4 separate regions of the Homo sapiens genome follow, and regions 1, 2 and 3 are each linked to region 4. Evidence: fine-mapped expression QTL. A gene starts in region 4. Each other region holds a variant in brackets. All regions are shown on one strand. Distances are between the middles of the regions. Region 1 holds the start of ZNF587 (zinc finger protein 587). Region 2 holds the start of ZNF552 (zinc finger protein 552). Region 3 holds the start of ZSCAN4 (zinc finger and SCAN domain containing 4). Region 4 holds the start of ZNF154 (zinc finger protein 154).

What was found.
Region 1: its variant is fine-mapped to the expression of ZNF154 in whole blood (TOPMed, PIP above 0.99).
Region 2: its variant is fine-mapped to the expression of ZNF154 in whole blood (TOPMed, PIP above 0.99).
Region 3: its variant is fine-mapped to the expression of ZNF154 in T cells (TOPMed, PIP 0.92).

Annotation. Positions count from the first base shown.
Region 1 is chr19:57,848,012-57,853,166 of GRCh38, forward strand. It overlaps ZNF587 (zinc finger protein 587), which reads left to right and starts at 1,848. Exons shown (of 3, transcript NM_032828.4): 1 at 1,848-2,060. The coding sequence starts at 2,028. It overlaps LOC124904782 (a long non-coding RNA gene), which reads right to left. Exons shown (of 2, transcript XR_007067358.1): 2 at 2,304-2,550. RefSeq lists enhancers at 1,446-1,555, 1,626-1,685, 1,856-2,095, 2,146-2,235, 2,290-3,489. The variant T/C (reference allele first, on the strand shown) is at 3,011.
Region 2 is chr19:57,811,984-57,817,138 of GRCh38, forward strand. ZNF552 (zinc finger protein 552) reads right to left here and starts at 2,930. Exons shown (of 3, transcript NM_024762.3): 1 at 2,728-2,930; 2 at 1,311-1,437. The coding sequence starts at 2,760. RefSeq lists enhancers at 1-197, 3,205-3,254. The variant C/T (reference allele first, on the strand shown) is at 2,798.
Region 3 is chr19:57,666,448-57,671,602 of GRCh38, forward strand. ZSCAN4 (zinc finger and SCAN domain containing 4) reads left to right here and starts at 2,488. Exons shown (of 5, transcript NM_152677.4): 1 at 2,488-2,756; 2 at 3,798-4,120. The variant C/T (reference allele first, on the strand shown) is at 2,145.
Region 4 is chr19:57,706,661-57,711,789 of GRCh38, forward strand. ZNF154 (zinc finger protein 154) reads right to left here and starts at 2,544. Exons shown (of 3, transcript NM_001085384.3): 1 at 2,279-2,544. The coding sequence starts at 2,311. RefSeq lists enhancers at 2,132-2,771, 2,515-2,644, 2,665-2,724.

The DNA of each region.
Region 1 (5,155 bases), 140 kb after region 4:
CTAGCTCTGTCGCCAGGCTGGAGTGCAGTCATGCGATCTCAGCTCATTGCAACCTCTGCCTCCAGAGTTCAGGCGATTCTCCTGCCTCAGCCTCCCGAGTAGCTGGGACTACAGGTGTCTGCCACCATGCCCAGCAATTTTTTTAACATGGGTTTTGCTGTGTTAGCCAGGATGGTCTTGATCTCCTGACTTCATGATCTGTCCACCTCGGCCTCCCAAAGTGCTGGGATTACAGGCGTGAGCAACCGTGCCCGGCTAATTTTTTTATTTTTATTAGAGATGGGGTTTCACCATATTGGTCAGGCTGGTCTCGAACTCCTGACCTCATGATCCACCTGACTCAGCCTCCCAAAGTGTTGGGATTATAGGCATGAGCCACTGCACCCAGCAATTTATTTATTTTTTATTTTTTATTTTTTTTGAGACAGAGTCTCACTCCTGTTGCCCAGGCTGGAGTGCAATGGCATGATCTCGACTCATCGCAACCTCCACCTCCAGGGTTCAAGTAATTCTCCTACCTCAGCCTCCCGAGTAGCTGGAATTGGAGGCATGCAGCACCATGCCTGGAAAATTTTGTACTTTCAGTAGAGACACGGTTTCTCCATGTTGGCCAGGCTGGTCTCGAACTCCCGACCTCAGGTGATCCACCTGCCTTGGCCTCCCAAAGTGCTGGGATTACAGGTGTGAGCCACCATGTCTGGCCTTTATTTTTATTTTTTGTGGGTATATAGTAGTGTATATATTTGTAGATTACATTAGATATTTTGATGTAGCCATGCCATATGTGATAATCACATAGGGTAAATGGGGTCTCAGTCACCTCAACATTTATCCTCTGTATTATAAACAGTCCAGTTATACTCTTTTAGTTATTTTTAAATATATAATTAAATTATTTTGACTATAGCCACCCTGTTATGGTAGCAAATATTAGGTCTTATTCATTTTTGCTCACTGTTTTTTGTACCCATCCTGTCATCATGTCTTATGGAGAATTTTCTTTTGTTCCCAACAAAACAATGAAACTCGCAAAACTGACTGTAATGATTCAGTCTACGTGAATTTAAAGAGCAATCAATACTTAATGTTCTCAGCTCTGAGTGCACACATTGTAAGTCTGAATGATGCCAATGATATGGCCACTTAGATAAGTAAAGTTTGGGAGCATCTCAAATAGTATTTTTATTCTCTGGGTGCAGGATGAGCTTCCTAGAGTCTGATGTGATACCTATTTGATGCTTTTACAAAGAATCAATAATCTTCCTCCTTTGAGGTGTGAGCAGGGCTTTCCAGCAGCCCTCAGAATGTAACATGGTCTGCATTCGGTTTGCTCTTGGAGGATACCACCATTGTTGGCTGAGAGCTCTGGGAAGTACTTTACCCAGAAGGCGCTAGTTGCAAGGCCCAGGATGAGGGATTTCTGGGCATGCTTGTCAGGCCAGGGAGTACTGGGTTGGGACTGAGAAGGCACAAGAGGAGTAGTCATCTCTGCTCCCAAGTGGCAGGTCTGAGGCTCATAGGCACTGGCTGGGGTGATGCCTGCTCCACCCACAGTTGATGGCAGCAGCCACACTGAGGGACCTAGCTCAGGTAAATGCTGTGTATTACAGGCTTCACCCCAGCTAGAGTAATACAGGTAGAGGAACCAATAGGTACAAAGGCTTGGAGGTGCATCTGAGCCATGAACATTTCAGAACCTGGTAACCATGTTGTGTCATGGAAAGTGGGGAACTACATTACCCAGAAAGCTCTGCTTTAAACGACAGCCGGTCAGAGCCAGTGAGCACTCGGAAAGAAGGCATTTCCACGTGTGCACGTAACGTAAGGCCGAGACTTCCGGGGTCTCTAGTAGCGGCTGTGTATCGGCGATGCGGGTGTTTCCCCAGTTTGTGGCCCCTGAGTGCTGGGTGGGACCGCGGTGACTGAACCTAGAAGGTGGAGAGGAATCGTCCTCGGTGCCCAGAGGCGGCTCTGCAGCCCCGTGACGGCGACCACTGCTCCCGGGCCGTGCTTCCCCAAGTAGTCCGATGGCAGCGGCTGTGCCGAGGCGCCCAACTCAGGTAATTGTGGTGCCTTCTGTGCCCTCAGGTCACCCCATCGTCACCCAGGTCCTAAACCAGCGAGGGAGCGGCTCCTGCTCGTGGGTCTGTAGCCGGTACCCGGCGTAGGAACACTGAGGCGCTCACAGGAGGCCTCTCCTTGTAACCGTCCAGTGGGTTCACGTTGCCAGCTGCCTAGACAGAGCCGATTTATGAAGACTGGGGAATTGCGATGGAGAAATAGTAATTCACGCAGAGCCGTCCTGCTGTTCGGGAGACAGGAGTTTTATTATTCAAATCAGTCTCCCTGAGCATTCTGGGATCAGAGTTTTCAAAATTTGGCGGGTAGGGGCTTGGGAAGTGGGGAGTGCTGATCAGTCTGGTTGGAGATGGATTCATAGGGGGTTAAAGTGAGTTTTTCATGCTGTTTTCTGTTCTGGGTGGGATGGCAGAACTGATTGACCCAGATTACCGGTCTGTGTGTTGTCCGCTGATCCATCCAGTGCAGGATCTGCAAAATGCCCCAAGCACTGATCTTAGATATTGGGGAAACCAGCCCCACACCACCCAGCAGATACCCCGAGTCCTGCGGAGACAAAGGAGTTAGAAAGAGACAGAATACGCATTTAAAAGGCGGGTCCAGGTGGCCAGAGCATTGGAGGCTTCCTGGCGGCCCAGAGCTCTTGGGCTCCACCCAGTTTATTGGTTTACAAGCTCTTTGTTCTTATGGCTGATTGGAGGGGGAGGAAGCGATCAGGAAAAGGATTAATCAGTAAAGGAGAACTCGTGAGTCATTCCATAAGATGTAAAGCACTGGCCGTTTCTGTGAATTTCCTTGAACAAAGGCGTGTGTCTAAACTACTTAAGATCTTTAACTTAACTGAAACGGGTGGCTGCGGGTTTCAGGAGGAGCCAAGATGTTTGATTATGCTCCACTGCTTCAAGGGAGTGTGATCTCCCTGAGCAACCCA[T/C]GGAATGCTGCTGAAGAGTTATGCTCTCGGGGCATAAAGACATGAAGGCAATAAGGAGACTTTTCTCCTCAGAGGCCGCCCATGGCTTCCCATGGGTGTCTCACACAGGGGAGACCAACTCAACTAGCACCCCAGAAACTCACATTAGGTTTTACAATAGTAAGGTTATCTTCAGGAGCAACTTGGGGAGGTTCAGACTCTTGGAGCCAGAAGCTGCATGACCCCTAAACCGTAATTTCTATTCTTGTAGCTAATTTGTTAGTCCTGCAAAGACAGGCTGGTCCCCAGGCAAGAAAGGGGTCTTTTCAGGAAAGGGCTATTATCAATTTTGTTTCAGAGTGAAACCATGAACTGAATTCTTTTCCAAAGTTAATTCAGCCTATGCCCAGGAATGAAAAAAGACGGCTGAAAGGTTGGAAGCAAGATGGAGTCGGTTAGGTCTGATTTCTTTCACTGTCATAATTTCGTCAGTTATAATTTTGCAAAGTCGGTTTCACCTGTTTCTGACACCAGTGGGATGCAGTGGGGAGAGTGACAGGCACAGGTAGGGGTGCAGGCAATGGCCTGCAGATGGACAGAGCTGGAAGGATGGAACCTGGGGTTCACAGGCATCTGTCAGGAACAACGTGTGAGATGGAGCTCTTCCTGGTAGAGCAAGCAGGCCAGGGGCTGTGCATTCATCATGAGGATTCTAGAAGCCATGGAGAGTTTTGAAGAAAGGAGGGACATGATCCAAATCCAGGCTTTTAAGAAGTTTCCCAAAGGCCAATCAAAGGAAGAACATCATAGAGAGAGAGGATGAGGACTTTGGGGCCTTGGGAGGTTGAATCCGTTTTGTAGATCACATAGATGGTAGAGATGACATTTTGCACTGAGAAAAGCAGGTCAGACAACCAGCCTTAGGGTTACCTGGTTCCAGGGACAAGAAAGGGTTCAGGGAGTCCTGAGCTTATCAAATCCTGTGACATGTTTGTAATGTCTGCCTTTCCCCTCAGGCACTCCTGGCTGCAGAAGCACTTAGGGAACCCACACAGGGAAGTGGAGGGTGTTCCATTCCCTCATTGGTCCTGACGCCATCTACAGGTTCTCTAGCTTGTGGTGTCCTGGGACTCTTAAGTGCCATTTTTTTCAGTCCTTTGATCCGAGGACCCTGGAGAATCTCTGAAGCCAGGATACCAAGTCCATGACAGGTTATATGGAGGTATTCCCATTTCTGTCAACCAATGTAAACACCCTTGTAAGATTAACCCAGGATTTGCTACCAGGTTGTGAAATGCTTAGAGATAAAACGGATCAAAGTCAGGAGGTGATATTACCACAGTTCTACCTGGCTACAGGCTTCATCTGGCTGGACCTTGTTGCATAGACTGTGGGTTGAGGGAAGAGGAAGAAAGGTCAGAGATAAGGCTCCTGCCATAATCCAGGTGAGGGTTAATGGATCAGATAAGTGGTAAATCACATGGGTCTGGATTCAGGATTCACTTTTTGTAAAGAGACAGCTAGGTTTTCTTTTTTTTTTCTTAACGTGGAATTTCAGTCTTGTTGCCCAGGCTGGAGTGCAATGGCGCAATCTTGGGCTCACTGGAGCCTCTGCCTCCCAGGTTCAAGCAATTCTCCTGCCTCAGCATTCAAGGTAGCTGGCATTACAGGCACCCACCATCATGCCCAGCTAATTTTTGTATTTTTAGTAGAGACGAGGTTTTACCATGTTGGCCAGGCTGGTCTCGAACTCCTGACCTCAAGTGATCGTCACATCTCGGCCTCCCAAAGTGCTGGGATTATAGGCATGGACCAATGCGCCCAGCCGAGACAGCTAGGCTTTTTTTTTTTTTTTTTTTTTTTTTTTTTTGAGACGGAGTTTCACTCTCTTGTCCAGCCTGGAGTCTAGTGGCACAATCTCAGCCCACTGCAACCTTCACCTCCTGGGCTCAAGTGATTCTCCTGCCTCAGCCTCCTGAGTAGCTGGGATTACAGGCATGTACCACCACACTCGGCTAATTTTTCTATTTTTAGTAAAGTCGGGGTTTCACCATGTTGGCCAGGCTAGTCTCAAACTCCTGACCTCAGGAGATTCGCTGGCCTCTGCCTCCCCAAGTGCTGGGATTATAGGCACGAGCCACCATGCCTTGCAGACAGCTAGATTTT
Region 2 (5,155 bases), 110 kb after region 4:
GCACCACTACACTCCAGCCTGGGCAACAAAGTGAGACTCTGTCTCAAAAAAAAAAAAAAAAAAAAAAATTAGCTGGGCATAATGGCATGCACCTGTATTCCCAGCTTCTCAGGAGGCTGAAGCAGGAGAAGTGCTTCAGCCCAGGAGGCAGAGGTTGCAGTGAGCAGAGATCAAGCTACTGCACTCCAGCCTGGGCAACAGAACAAGACCCTTTCTCAAAAAACAAACAAACAAAACCAAAAACAAGAATGAAGGAGAAAAGACGATACAGAAATCATGTGTGCTTACTTGTCTGGCCCCAAAAATACTACTGAAATAGAAGAGGTTTCTGTCATGATTTGAATAAAACTCTTGACATCATGCACCACTGTCCTAGGATGCTATTTTTCAGGGACTCAGAACCCATAATGCTGAGGCCAGATTCATTTGCATCTTCTGACCACAGAAGATGATCCCACCACCAAGATAACCAAGTACATGAGACATACATGATGTAAGAACAAAGGGAAAGACAGAACAAGGAAACAGCCAACACTGGCTTAGAACAACTCAGCACATGACAGCAGACAGGAAACAATATTACAAAAAGAATTTCTGTTTTTTGAGACGGAGTCTTGCTCTGTTGCTCAGGCTGGAGCGCAGTGGCACAATCTCAGCTCACTGCAACCCCTGCCTCCTGGGTTCAAGCTATCCTCCCACCTTAGCCTCCCAAGTAGCCAGGATTAAAAGCGTGTGCCACCACACCTGGCTAATTTTTATATTTTCAGTAGAGATGGGGTTTCACCATGTCGGCCAGGCTGTTCTCGAACTCCTGGCCTCAAGTAATCCACCTACCTTGGCCTCCCTGAGTGCAGAAATTATAGGCATGAGCCACTGCACCAGACCTATGAAGAGAATTTCTAAGGACGGTATTACAAGAACAGTCTATAGTCTATGTAGGCAGTGACAATGTCAATGAAGACAATTCCTGGCACAGGGAGGCATGAAGAAATAACAGGTAGAGGAATGAATTAGATCCCGAACCTGAAATCTGGATGAAATCACACAAACATCCACAGGACAAACAAGGTAGCCTGCATTAAGTTGCCTGTAAGACTTCTGACTCTGAATTCTTCCCTGGGAGCTCAATAGCAGGTGTTGGGGCTGCTCCAAGAATGGAGAGGGCAGTATGCATACCTCAGTCCTACCAACCAAGAACTGAAGTAGGAAGCTGTGTCCATGCTCCTGACATGAGAAAGTCTTGCCAATAGAAAAAGAGGGGGAAAGACAGAGACTAGCTCAGGTCACAGGGGTGAGTGTGGGCAACTTACCCAGGGAGGACATAAGTGCCAGGTTCTCCAGCGTCACATCACGGTACAGGCATCTCTGAGCCTCACTAAGGAGATTCCATTCCTCCTGGGTAAATTTCACAGCCACGTCTTCAAAAGTCACTGTGCCCTGTTATGATGTTGACAGATGAAACCACAAACCACCCCTATGCTGAGGTATCACAATCCATCTCTCCCACACATCTACTCTCGCACATCCTCCTCTCAAGGTCCTCAAACATAGGAGAAACTAGGCCCACTGGTCATGGGGTACAGCCACCAACAACAATAGTTAGTTGAACAAATAGGTATCTGTGCGGTGGCTGTGATATAAGAGTCCACCCCCTCCTGACAGGCACTTCCCCTAGTATGGCCGAGGTCATGGAAAGCCCAATGTGGCACCTTCAGCACAGCAGAGATACCCTCTCTGAACGCACCTCATTCTTTTTTTTTTTTTTTTTTTTTTTTTTTTGATACGGAGTCTCGCTCTGTCACCCAGGGTGGAGTGCAATGGCGCGATCTCGGCTCACGCAACCTCCGCCTCCCGGGTTCAAGCGAGTCTGCTGCCTCAGTTTCCCAAGTAGCTGGGATTACAGGCATGCGCCACCACGCCTGGCTAATTTTGTATTTTTAGTAGAGACAGGGTTTCTCCATGGTTGGTCAGGCTGGTCTCTACCTCCGGACCAACCCGCCTAGGCCTCCCAAAGTGCTGGGATTACAGGAGTGAGCCACTGCACCCGGCCCCACCCTCCACTTTCTTGTATGCGTTCCTTAAATGCTTCTACAGCCATAAAGGCCTGAGGGAAGAGGCTGACTTTACAGGACTGTGTCCCTGATAGGATCTGGTAAGCTCAGGCCTCCCTGAACGCTTTTGTGTCCACGGAGCCAGGTGACCTTGGACTATTGTCTAACCTGCGTGTCTCAGCACAAAGTGTCATCTCTACCACCTATATGATCTACAAGGATTCAATCTCAAAGGGCCCCAACGTCATCCCCTCTCTACTCTGTTATTTATTTGGCCTTTAGGAAACTTTAAAAGCCTGGACTTTGATCCAGTCCCTTCTTTCTTGGAAATTCTCCTATTTCTAGTGTCCTCGCAATGATTTCACAGCCCCCAGCCTCCTTGCTTTTCCAGGAGGAGTTCCGCCTCACAGGTTGTTCCCTACAGGCGCCTGTGGACCCCAGGTTCCATCCTCCCGGATCCGTCCATCTCCAGGCCATTGCCCGCGCCCCTCCCTGTACCTGTCGCTCTCCCCACCGCATCCCACGGGTGTCTGAAACAGGGATCCCTCCCGAGAGCGCCTCAGTGTCCCGACGCCGGGTCCGGGTTGCAGAGCCGTAAACAGGTGCCGCTCCCTCGCTGCTTTAGGACTTGTGTGACTAGGAGGTGACCGGAGAGCACGGAAGGCGCCACAATTACCTGAACGGGGAACCTTAGCGCGGCCGCCGCCATGGGACCACGTGGGGTAAGCTGGGTTGAGAGCAGCGGG[C/T]GCCGTTAAAGAGCTGCAGAGTCACGTCTGTGCAAAGAGAAGAACGACTCTCGACCTCCTGGATCCAGTCACCACCACGGTCCCAACACAGCGCTCCAAGGACTCCCTAACGCCAATGGAAATGGTCGCTACTAAAGGGCGCCGGGAGTCCCGCCTCTACCTTACTTGCGCACACGGAAACGCCTTCAATGTGAACTCTCACTGGCTCTGCCGTGCTGTCATTTGACGCAGAGCTTTCTGGGTAATGTAGTTTCCCAGGTTCCAAGGCCGTAAAGAGAGAGATTCCCAGGGGCGCTTCGGAAGGAAAAGCCCAGCTCCACCTCCGGGGCCCTCAGGGAAGCCTCCTGACCCGCACGGTGGCGCGCGCCTGTAATCCCAAATTTTGAGAGGCTGAGGTGTCAGGACTGCTTGAGCCCAGGTGGTCCAGGCTGCACTGAGCTATGACTGCACCACTGCACTCCAGCCTGGGCGACAGAACCTGTCTCAAAAGAAAAAGAAATGTTAATTAAGCGTTTGTGCTGTTAAGGGAGGAGACCACCTCTCATATTGTTTTATGCCCAATTTCTGCCTCCAAAGAAACAAGTAAAAACTAAAAGGCAGAAATGAAATCCACAGGCAGACAGCCAGGTGCCAACCCTGGGCCTGGTTAAAGATCGACCCCTGACCAAACCGGTTATGTTATCTATGGATTCCAGACATTGTATGGAAAAGCATTGTGAAAATCCCTGTCCTGTTCTGTTCCGTTCTGATTACCACTGCATGCAGCCCCCAGTCGTGTACCCCCTGCTTGCTCAATCGATCACAAACCTCTCATGTGGACCCCCTTAGAGTTGTAAGCCCTTAAAAGGGACAGGAATTCCTCACTTGGGGAGCTTGGTAGTTGGAGATGTGAGTCTTGCCAAAGCTCCAGGCTGAATACAGCCCTGCGGCTTGTCCTGCTACATTTCTTGGTTCCCTGACTGGGAAGCCAGGTGATTAACAGATAGTCGAGGCAGCCCCTTAGGCAGCTTAGGCCTGCCCTGTGGAGCATCCCTACAGGGGACTCTGGCCAGCTTGAGGGACGCAGAACCTGAGAGCACTCCCGGGTAGGCAATTGCCCCAGTGGAACACCTCGCCAGAGTGGCGTGTGGCAGGCCCCCACAGAGGATCAATGCAGCGGCTGAACACTGGGAAGGAACAGGCACTTGGAGTCCGGACATCTGAAACTTGGTAAGACTAGTCTTTGGAACTTGCCCACTCCATTTGAGTGGAAGGGTGGCCTGATCACCCACGGCATGCCTGTACCGGCACTTTGGTTTTTGTTTTTGACTTGATTTGGATTGCTTGATACTTTCGTTTTGGTTTTGACCTGGCTTGGATTTCTGGATACTCTGATTTGGATTTTGATTCTGGTTTGGTGTAAACGGTAAAAGTGTATGTGTGCCCTTTTTACCTGTTCTTTGTTTTGTGGTGTGCGTGTGGTGTGAGCGTGGTGTTTTGTCTCAAAGAAGCATGGGTCAGGCACAAAGTAAGCCCACTTCACTAGGAACTATGTTGAAACATTTCAAGAAAGGATTTAAGGGAGATTACAGTGTTACTATGACACCAGGAAAACTTAGAACTTTGTGTGAAATAGACTGGCCAGCATTAGAGGTGGGTTGGTCATCAGAAGGAAGCCTGGACAGGTCCCTTGTTTGAAAGGTATTGTGTCCAGAATTGGTTCCTTCCGGTGGGTTCTTGGTCTCGCTGACTTCAAGAATGAAGCCGCAGACCCTCACGGGCAGTGTTAAAGTTCTTAAAGATGGTATGTCTGGAGTTTGTTCCTTCAGGTGTTCAGATGTGTCTAGAGTTTCTTCCTTCTGGTGGGTTCGTGGTCTCGCTGGCTTCAGGAGTGAAGTGGCAGACCTTCGCGGTGAGTGTTACAGCTCATAAAGGCAGTGCGGGCCCAAAGAGTGAGCAACAGCAAGATTTATTGCGAAGAGCGAAAGAACAAAGTTTCCACAGTGTGGAAGGGGACCTGGGCGGGTTGCTGCTACTGGCTGGCCAGCTTTTATTCCCTTATTTGACCCCACCCACATCCTGCTGATTGGTCCATTTTATACAGCGACAGAGTGAGACTCCACCTCAAAAAAAAAAAAAAAAAAAAAAAGAAGAATCTCATTTTGAAGCCAAAACCATCAGAGTGACCATTCCAATTATGTGCTGAGCATAATTCCATCTCTTAGACATCAGTGCTAACATTTCTCTGAGGCCCTAAGTTTTTTCACCATCTACTGATGTTTCCTCAGAACTACTTCTGTCAGAACTGTTGAATAATTACCTAGTCAGTGTTTTTTGTTTTTTTTTTTCACACAGAGTCTCGCTCTGTCGCCCAGGCTA
Region 3 (5,155 bases), 40 kb before region 4:
AGTCTTTGCGTTCATAAAGACATTTAGAACCGGATGAATGTTGTTCCTTTTTTGAAGTTGTTATTAAAGTAGGTGCAACAACCAAAAATCAATAAATAATAAATAAATTGACTAAATATTTTTTCTCAAAAAAAAAAAAAAAAGAAAAGAAAGTCACCAGGTGTGGTGGCTCACGCCTGTAATCCCAGCACCTGGGGAGGCTGAGGTGGGCGGATCACCTGAGATCAGGAGTTTGAGACTATCCTGGCCAACATGGTGAAACCCCGTCTCTACTAAAATACAAAAATTAGCCGGGTGTGGTGGCGCATGCCTTTAATCACAGCTACTCTGGGTGCGGAAGTTGCAGTGAGCCAAGATCGTGCCACTGCACTCCAGCCTGGGCGACAGAGCAAGACTTTGTCTCGAAAAAAATAGAAAGTTAACAGTTTTGTTTATTTTCCTACCAGGTTTTTATTATTATTATTATTATTCTAATTGAAATCACTGTTTCCTACATACTGAGGCGGATTGGCTTTGTCTTCTTGGAAACAAAGGTTATTTTCCTCACTCACACTGGAGCGGGGATACTCACCAGACACAAGTTGAGATGATGCTGGATGTAAACGGGTCATCTATTTTTACCAAAGGCAGCACTACCTGCCTTCCCAATTGATCAGAAAAGCATTTGATAGTTGTCTTTGTAATATCCTTATTTGATTAAATTACTATGTGGATTTCACATTTATTTTTATTGTTTTGTGCCTGTTTATTCTATGCCTAAGTTGGGGTATCACCAGGTCATTTCCTCCACCATCTGTGTTTCCCCAAGGATAAATCCTCCTGCTCATGCCCTTCACTCCTCCATTAGCCCATTCCCTAGAAAGCTGCTGGTTTTACACAGTGGCTGTGTGTCTTTGCCTTCTTAATGTAGCATTCAGAGTCCCACTCTGGAGCCAGGTATCAAATCCTAGCCCAGCCACTTACAGGCTATGTAGCACTGGCCAAGGTACTGAACTTCTCTGTGCCTCTGTTATTTTGATGTTAAAATGGAGTTATTTAGGATCTACTTTACAGGACTGTTGTGATGGAAATGGGTTAACATACAGAAAGCACTGAGAACAGAGTCAAATATGCCCTGACTGCTTAAAGGTTAGTTATTATGATCCCTGATGCTATTACTACTCTTACTGATATCATCGTGCCTCAGGTCTAACTGCTCCCAGAGTTACACACCAGCATGTCCAACAGCTGGCTGTATATCTGAACTCAAAAATCCAATAACCTCCTCCAAACAGAAATTGCCAGCTTTTCCCCAAACCTTTTCCTTACAGCTCCTTACAGAGCTCAAGGAACTCCTTGAGACTGCAGAAGCAGACAGGAAATGCTTTCAACCCACCACAAATTAACAACTGGCCTCCAGTGGTACTCACATTGTCTACATTTTTCATTGTTTTTTTTTTGTTTGTTTTTTGTTTGTTTGTTTGTTTGTTTTTGAGACAGAGTCTCACTCTGTCGCCCAGGCTGGAGAGCAGTGGTGCGATCTTGGCTCACTGCAACCTCGGCCTCCCAGGTTCAAGTGATTCTCCTGCCTCAGGCTCCCGAGTACTTGGGATTACAGGTGCCTGCCACCATGCCTGGCTAATTTTTGTATTTTTTTAGTAGAGACGAGGTTTCATCATGTTGGCCAGGCTGGTCTCAAACTCCTGACCTCAGGTGATCCACCCGCCTCGGCCTCCCAAAGTGCTGGGATTACAGGCATGAGCCACTGCGCCCAGCCCATTTTTCATTGTTGTAGCAGAGAAGTATCCCTGCTTCCATCAAGAGCCAATTTTCCTGTCACAGTTGGTTTAATGACATAGTTGGTGACAGGACCTAAACCACCAGTGGAAAATTGGCTCTTGATGGGAGCAGGGATACTTCTCTGTATGGAGTATATGTGGATGAAACTCCTTGGAGAAATGGACTAGTACACAGTCTTATAATGTGAGGATTCAGAACATAATTCCTAATGTGGGGAAGTCAAGCAGACATTTCATCAGTGGAGTACCAGGAGATTCAAACTCTGTACCCAACAGTGATAGGGGGACAATCTAAGCCCCAAGAGGCTGCATGCCTGATGGAGCAGATGAAACACATGGCTGTAATTAGCTCCCACCCCTTCGATA[C/T]GTTCTCAACTCCACCAAAGCCTCAGCCTGTATGAGGGTGGAAAGTGGGGAGGGAGAGTGCAGGGAAGAAGGCACAGCTTCCACCACACTAGGTGACCAGGCGCTTCTCACCATTTTAACTCCTCCATCTCTCTCAAGCCTCATGTTAAGTCTATCAAACATCATATGCTTTCTCAATATAAAATATGCACCAATTTCTCCCTTTCCACTGATATAATCCTAGTCTCAACCCCTGTCATCTTTTTGATGGATTAGGAATGCCTTCTCTGGGTCCCGGGCCCCCTCTGTTTCACCAGCCTGGAATTGGCACAGGAGTCACAGCATTAGCCTTGCCCTCTGCCACCCTTGTAATTCATAAATCTCTGAAAACTTAAAAGTTTGAGCAAAAGTTTGTCATGTTTCTATGAGTAATTTATAATAAAACTTGATCAGAATTTGTGAGACTAACGTTTGTCTTTATATTTTCCTTTTTTTTTTTTTTTTTTTTGAGACACAGTCTCGCTCTGTCGTCCAGGCTGGAGTGCCGTGGCGTAATCTCGGCTCACTGCAACCTCTGCCTCCTGGATTCAAACAATTCTTCTGCCTCAGCCTCCTGAGTAGCTGGGATTACAGGTGCATGCTACCACGCCCAGATAATTTTTGTATTTTTAATAGAAACCGGGTTTAACCATGTTGGTCAGGCTGGTCTCAAACTCCTGACCTCATGATCCACCTGCCTCGGCCTCCCAAAGTGCTGGGATTACAGGCGCGAGCCACCACACCCAGCCTGTCTTTATATTTTCATTTAATGTGGACCTTGTTACATTTTACCGCAGATTTTGTATTTTTGTGTGTGTTTGTTTGTTTGTTGGTTTTTGAGACAGTCTACCTCTGTCGCCCAGGCTGCAGTGCAGTGGCACAATTTCAGCTCACTGCAACCTCCGCCTCTGTGGTTCAAACAATTCTTCTGCTCAGCCTCCTGAATAGCTGGGACTACAGGCACGCGCCACTACGCCTGGCTAATTTTTGCATTTTTAGTAGAGATGGGGTTTCACCATATTGGCCAGGCTGGTCTCGAACTCTTGACCTCGTGATCCGCCCACCTCGGCCTCCAAAAGTGCTGGGATTACAGGCATGGTTTTTTTTTTGTTCGTTTTGTTTTGTTTTTTTTTTAGAGACTTGGTCTCCTTCCATTTCCCAGGCCAGAGTTCAGTAGGGCGGTCATAATCCACTGTAGCCATGAACTCCCTGGCTCAAACAAGCTACACAGACATGCCACCATGCCTGGCTAACATTTTTAACATTATTTTTGGTAGAGACAGGGTCTTGCTTTGTTGCTCAGGCTAGGGATTCACAGAGTCTTGCTCTGTCTCCCAGGCTGGAATGCAGTGGCGCAATCTTGGCTCACTCTAGCCTCTGCCTCCCAGGTTCAAGTAATTCTCCTGCCTCAGCCTCCCAAGTAGCTGGGATTACAGGTGCCCACCACCATGCCCGGCTAATTTTTGTATTTTTAGTAGAGAAAGGGTTTCACCATGTTGGCCAGGCTGGTCTTGAACTCCTGATCTCAGGTGATCTGCCTGCCTCAGCCTCCCAAAGTGCTGAGATTACAGGTGTGAGCCACTGCACCTAGCCTGCAGAAATATTAATGTGTTTGTTTATGACCTGTTGACCCAGGACCAGTGATGGTATAGAACACTGTATTAGAGACATGGAGCTGGGGCTGGATGAAGATTCCATCAGTAATTCAATCAACAGACAAGTGTTATCCAATCACGTCTTTAAATCAATCACTGACATGGAGCTGGGGCTGGATGAAGATTCCATCAGTAATTCAATCAACAGACAAGTGTTATCCAATCACGTCTTTAAATCAATCACTGATCCCAGCCCCTATAAAAGGGAGCAGCCTTAGGAGGCACATCAGATAAACCCAGTGTGGAAAGCTAGTCACACATCAGCTCAGTGTTCGGCCCGGGATTACCCAGTCAACCAAGGAGGTAAGCTTCCATAATGGAAGGAAAATTTTGTGCCTTTGAGTGTGTATACATTTTGTGTCTTTGAGTGTGTATACATAATTTTGTGTCTTTGAGTGTGTATACATGTGTATGTAGGCATAGCTATTTCAGGAAAATTCCTAACTACAGAGATATGGGGGTCTCCCAGGTGTAGGGAATGGTCTTTTGTTACAACAGCTCTGACCCAAAAGGGCTTGATGTTGTGAACTCTGTATAAAGGCCTGGTGTGACTGAAGATTTTTCTTCAAAAAGTCTATCGTATGACTTTATGTTCTAGTAATTCTTTTTTTTTTTTCGAGACAAGATCTCTATCACCCAGGCTAAAGTTTAGTAGCCCCAATCACAGCTCACTGCAGCTTCAGCCTCCCCAGGCTCAAGTGATCCTTCCACCTTAGCTTCCTGAGCAGCTGGGACCACAGGCGCACACCACCACACCAGGTTAATTTTTCTATTTTTTGTAGAGGCAGGATTTTGCCATGTTGCCCAGTGTGGTCTCAAACTCCTGGCCTCCAGTGATTTGCCCACTTTCAGCCTCCAAAAGTGCTGGGATTACAGATGTGAGCCACTGTGCCCAGCTTAGTAATTCCTTTGTATTGCATTATATGAAATATGTAGCTGGGTGTCATTAGAGATCATAAAGCCCAGGATACAGACCCAGACCTGACGGGTAGCATGCCTGCGTCACAGTTTGTAATTGCCAGACTCCAGATTAGAGCTCCGGTAGCCTTGTTTTGAATTCCCAGGTTCTGGGAAATAAGCCATAATACTTTGCAGTCTTGTCTATGTGGGACGGAGTGCATGTCTCCAAGTGTGAACATGTGGTCTGTGTGTCATAGGGGAGAAAGGGTGGGTAATCCAAAAAGAGAACTTGGAGGGAAGTGAAATGAAGGGGAAGCCATGGGTTCCACAGGAAAAAAAAAAAAAAAGAGAGAGAGAGAGACCAATGTCCCTGGATATAGAGAACCAGCCACAACACCTAAGATGGAGCTTGAGAAGTGTAGAGCTGGCCCAGGAAAG
Region 4 (5,129 bases):
TATCCTCTCCAAACACCCTACCTCCATAGCCACTAACCTCCCTTACCTCTGTTTAGAAAGCCCAAGAATATCACCCACTTATCCAACCAAAAGGCTTGGTCCTTAGCCCCCATTCTGCCCTTCCTGGCCAAATAACCTGTACCACCATGCCTAAAGATTAACCCTTGTAGGCCGGATGCGGTGGCTTACGCCTGTAATCCCAGAACTCTGGGTGGCTGAGGCGGGTGGATCACCTGAGGTTGGGAGTTCAAGACTAGCCTGACCAACATGGAGAAACCCTGTCTCTACTAAATAAATACAAAATTAGCCGGGCGTGGTGGCGCATGCCTGTAATCCCAGCTACTCGGGAGGCTGAGGCAGGAGAATTGCTTGAAGCCGGGAGGCGGAGGTTGTGGTGAGCCAAGCTCGCGCCATTGCACTCTGGCCTGGGCAACAAGAGAGACACTCCATCTCAAAAAAAAAAAAAAAAAATAGAACAACCCTTCTAAATGTAATCCACAGCTCACTCACCTTAGTCCACACAATGACCACCACATTTTGGATGTCTCCATTCTGAAGCACTCCCCAGATTTCCAGACCTGGGTGTTCAGCCACCTACTTAATGCCTACTTAATGTCTCTGAAACATCTCAAACTCTTACATGACCAAATAAAGCTCCTGTTGTCTCCAGTGAATATTACTGTTAATACCAACTTCTCCATCTCAGTTGAAGAACCATGGGGTCATCGCTGAATCCTGTTTCACTCCCTCGCTGTCTACATCAGAAAATTTAGTTGCTCCCTTTAAAAATTTGCATCCAGAATGCAACACATCTCCTAATCAATGACTCTGGTCCATTACCCTGGACTGGCTGTAGCTTCCACTCTGATCTTCTTTCCTCTTCCCTCAACCCCACAGTCTGCTCTCCACGCTAACGGGATGGACCCTGTTAGGACTTTGGTAAGATCACCTCCCTCTTGTAACCCAAATCTCTCATTACCTCCAGAATAGGTACCCAACTTCTCAGGCAGCCACTGCAGTCCTGACTCCTTCCCCCTGCTCTTTGTTCCCAGCTAAAAGGAAACAGATCTATGGTTTCCTCAAAAATCTCAGCTTAGTTTTACTAAGCACTTGCGCCTCCTGATACCAGTGCCAGAGATAACCTTTCACAAGTTTCCACTGGCTGACAAAAATGGGAACACCTCAGTATAACCCCTGTAACCTCTGGCATGGACTTAAGAGCCCTGGGCTTGGAATTTCTCCAGGGCACCAGACCCAGGATTGGGGTAACAGCACTTAAGAATACTAGGAAACCACAATCCCAAGAACATGGGGGTAGAGGCTACTGAGGGACCGAACACTCTCCACTTCCCTATGTGAGTTCCATACGCCCTTCTACAACTGGGAGAACCAGGGAAAGAGGAATGCATCCCTGGTGAGGCTAGATGAGCTCAAGCCTCCCTGTAGCCCTGCCTGGCCCTGAACTCAGGCTGGCTGTTTTACTTTCTGGTCTCAGTGCTGTCACCTCTTGCCAACTGTAGGGCAATGAAAAAAAGATGTAGCCTCCCACTATCTCAATGTCCTCATCGCCCCATCGCTGCTCTTCCTGTGAACAGTCTTTGGAAAAGTTTTTAAACCCTAACATAGGGCGGGCACGGTGGCTCACGCCTGTAATCCCAGCACTTTGGGAGGCCGAGGCAGGAGGATCACTTGTCAGGAGTTCCAGACCAGTCTGGCCAAAATGGTGAAATCCCGTCTCTACTAAAAATACAAAAAATTAGCCGGACGTTGTAATCCCAGCTGCAGGCTTGTAATCCCAGCTGCTGGGGAGGCTGAGGCAGGAGAATCGCTTGAACCCGGGAGTCGGAGGTTGCAGTGACCCGAGATCGCGTCATTGCACTCCAGCCTGGGCGATAAGAGCGAAACTCCGTCTCAAAGAAAAAAAAACTAACATAAATGGCGTCCCTCCTTTGTTCAGAACTCTCCGTGGCTTCTAGCATCCTCACAATGACAGTACAACCCTAGGAGTAACTCCGCCTCATATTCTTCGTTCCCTGCAGAAAACAGCTTTCCGAATTCTCCTGGCTCAGTCGCGCCTCAACCTTTGCACGCGCCGGTTCCTCCGCCTGTCACGCTCTCCCACACCTCGTCACACGCAGTGTCAAAAAAAGGGCCCCACCCACGAACGCCTCAGTGTCCCCGACCCTGGGCAGCGGGGACTCGAGCAGGCGCCCCTCACTGATGGCTTTAGAACGTGGGTGGGGGAAGGTGTGTGAGGACGGGAAGACGCCGCACTCACCTGAGTTGGCGTCCTCAGAGTGGCCGCTGCCATCAGACTCTGCGGGTAGAGCTGGGCCGGGAGCGACGGGCGACATTGGTAGGGACCCGGGGACAGCGGTCCCTATCCCAGGCCTGACGTGGGTCCCCCAGGGCGGCGTCGCCAAGGCTTAGACGCTTTCGTGCAGGAGGGACGACGACTCCCCTCACGCCTTCGTGGCCCCAACTCGGCGCTCTGCTATCTCTGATCCGGTGAACACACCTCAGAGAAGCTAAAATGGCCGCCACGAAGAGGCCCCCCCAAAAGTCCCGTCCTTTCTTTTTGTGACTCTCAAGGAAAGTCGGTTTTCTGAGCTCTTACTGGCTTAGTAGCGTGGCGTTCAACGCAGAGCATTCTAGGTAATGTAGTTTTCATAGATCCCGAGGTGGGTGCCGGGGACCCTTTGCACCAACCTCTTGGAGTAAAAGCGAAGCTCCAGGGCGCTGGGCGATGAGAAATGGCTTATCCAAGTCCTAGGGCAGTGGAGGGACTTCGCCCTTTCTTAAATGGGTCGTAATCAGACAGCATATTAGAGGTGCCATCTGCAACTGATCACCCAAGTGTTTGGGGAATATTATTTCAAACTTCATAAAGTTCAGCAGGCTCCCAGAGGCTAAAATTATTATCAGACGCTCCCTAAGGCTGCCAATCCAAATATGTACATCATTCCATAGAGCCATTCAGACACGAAATATATCCACTAGTAGGGAAGCTAATAAACATTACCATATAAGTTTATTCCTTTTTTTTTTTTTTTAAGACAAAGTTTCCCTCTGTCCCCCAGGCTGGAGTGCAGCGGCGCCATCTGGGATCACTGCAACCTCCGCCTCCCGGGTTAATCGATTCTCGTGCCTCAACCTTCCAAGTAGCTGGGACTATAGGCGCGCGCCACCACGCCAGGCTAATTTTTTGTATTTTCAGTAGAGACAGGGTTTCACTATGGTGGTCCCAAATTCCTGGCCCCAGGTGATCTGCCCGCCTCGGCCTCTCAAAGTGCTGGGATTACAGGCGTAAGCCACCGTACCCAGCCTCTATCATATTACATTTCAAATGTATGCACTCCGAAGCATTGAAGTCAGTCTGTGCACTTTTGGTCAGGGACAGGTGAAAAACTACTTCAGATAGTGGCATGATAGTGCTTCTAGAAGATAGAAGAGAAATGTTAGATCACCTTGAAACAGTAGTACAAAGGTAGAATTCTGTCTGATTCCAACAGAAAACATCTTTTGCCTGCATAGTCAATTATTGTGTCCAATTACTGTGTCCAGTCAATAACTGTGTCCAATTCACTGAGCAACGCTTTTATCCATTTCATAATTCTTACTTGATATCTGAGATATATTCCTTCTAGAAGTCTAACATCAATCTCAAAAAACAATGAAAGAAATGCTACTTTGATAAGAGACAAAGGGGAGAGGTGGGACTTCTTAATCAGAAAGCCGGTGAAATGCACTTGAAGGAAGTGAGAAATGAGCCATGTGGGTATTTTTAGAATAAATTCCAGGCAGAAGAAGCAGGTTACTAGAGTGCCTGGATGGATGGAGACTTCACAGGGCATTTCAGCATTGGAGGGCCTAGGGCTCCAACCCAGCAGGCCTTCATCTGCTTTGCTGGCTGCAGAGACACTCAGGGTATATAGGTGAGAAATCTCTTCTTTTTTTTTTTTCTTTTTTTTTGAGATGGAGTTTCACTCTTATTGCCCAGGCTGGAGTGCAATGACGCAGTCTTGTTTCACTGCAACCTCTCCACCTCCTGGGTTCAAGCGATTATCTTGCCTCAGCCTCCCAAGTAGCTGGGACTACAGGCGCACGCCATGACACCCAGCTAATTTTTGTATTTTTAGAAGAGACGGGGTTTCACCATGTTGGCCAGGCTGGTCTCGAACCACTGACCTCAGGTGATCCACGCATCTCGGCTTCCCAAAGTGCTGGGATTACAGGCATGAGCCACCGAGCCTGGCCGAGAAATCTCTGCTGCTTTGTTATAAAGTTTTGGAGCCGCAAAATAAATAGCACTCGAATATAAAATTTTCTTTTTAATTCTCAGCAAGGTAATGTACTTTTTTTTTTTTTTTTTTTTTTGAGATGGAATCTTGCTCTGTCACCCAGGTTGGAGTGCAGTGGCGCGATCTCGGCTCACTGCAAGCTCCGCCTCCCAGGTTCACGCCATTCTCCTGCCTCAGCCTCCCGAGTAGCTGGGACTACAGTTGCCCACCACCATGCCTAGCTAATTTTTTGTATTTTTAGTAGAGACAGGGTTTCACCATCTTGGCCAGGCTAGTCTTGAACTCCTGACCTCATGATCCACCCACCTCGGCCTCTCGAGGTGCTGGAATTACAGGCGTGAGCCACTGCGTCCGGCCCCAACATTTATTTTAATGTTCAGATTCTCCCAGATGTTTGGACAGTGGGAACTCATTAAAGCTGTGCTCTCTGCTTTTTTATGTCAATATTATTGATAATTTCATTACTTTCTAATCCAAAAATATTTTCAGGCTCATGTTGTACCCTTGCTATCCCAGCCCCAGAATCAGCCTCTTTTTCAAGGAGCTCTGGTTTTCTTCAATAGATAACAATGCTTGTAAATATTAGTAAGCATTAGCTGTGCTCTTTTCTACTGGTAAATCATTGATTATTAGGTCCTCTTGGAGAGAAAGCAGATACATACACATGCACGCACACATTTTTTTTTTTTTTTTTGAGACAGAGTCTTGCTCTGTCGCCCAGGCTGGAGTGCAGTGGCACGATCTCGGCTCACTGCAAGCTCAGCCTCCGAGGTTCACGCCATTCTCCTGCCTCAGGCTCCTGAGTAGCTGGGACTACGGGCGCCTGCC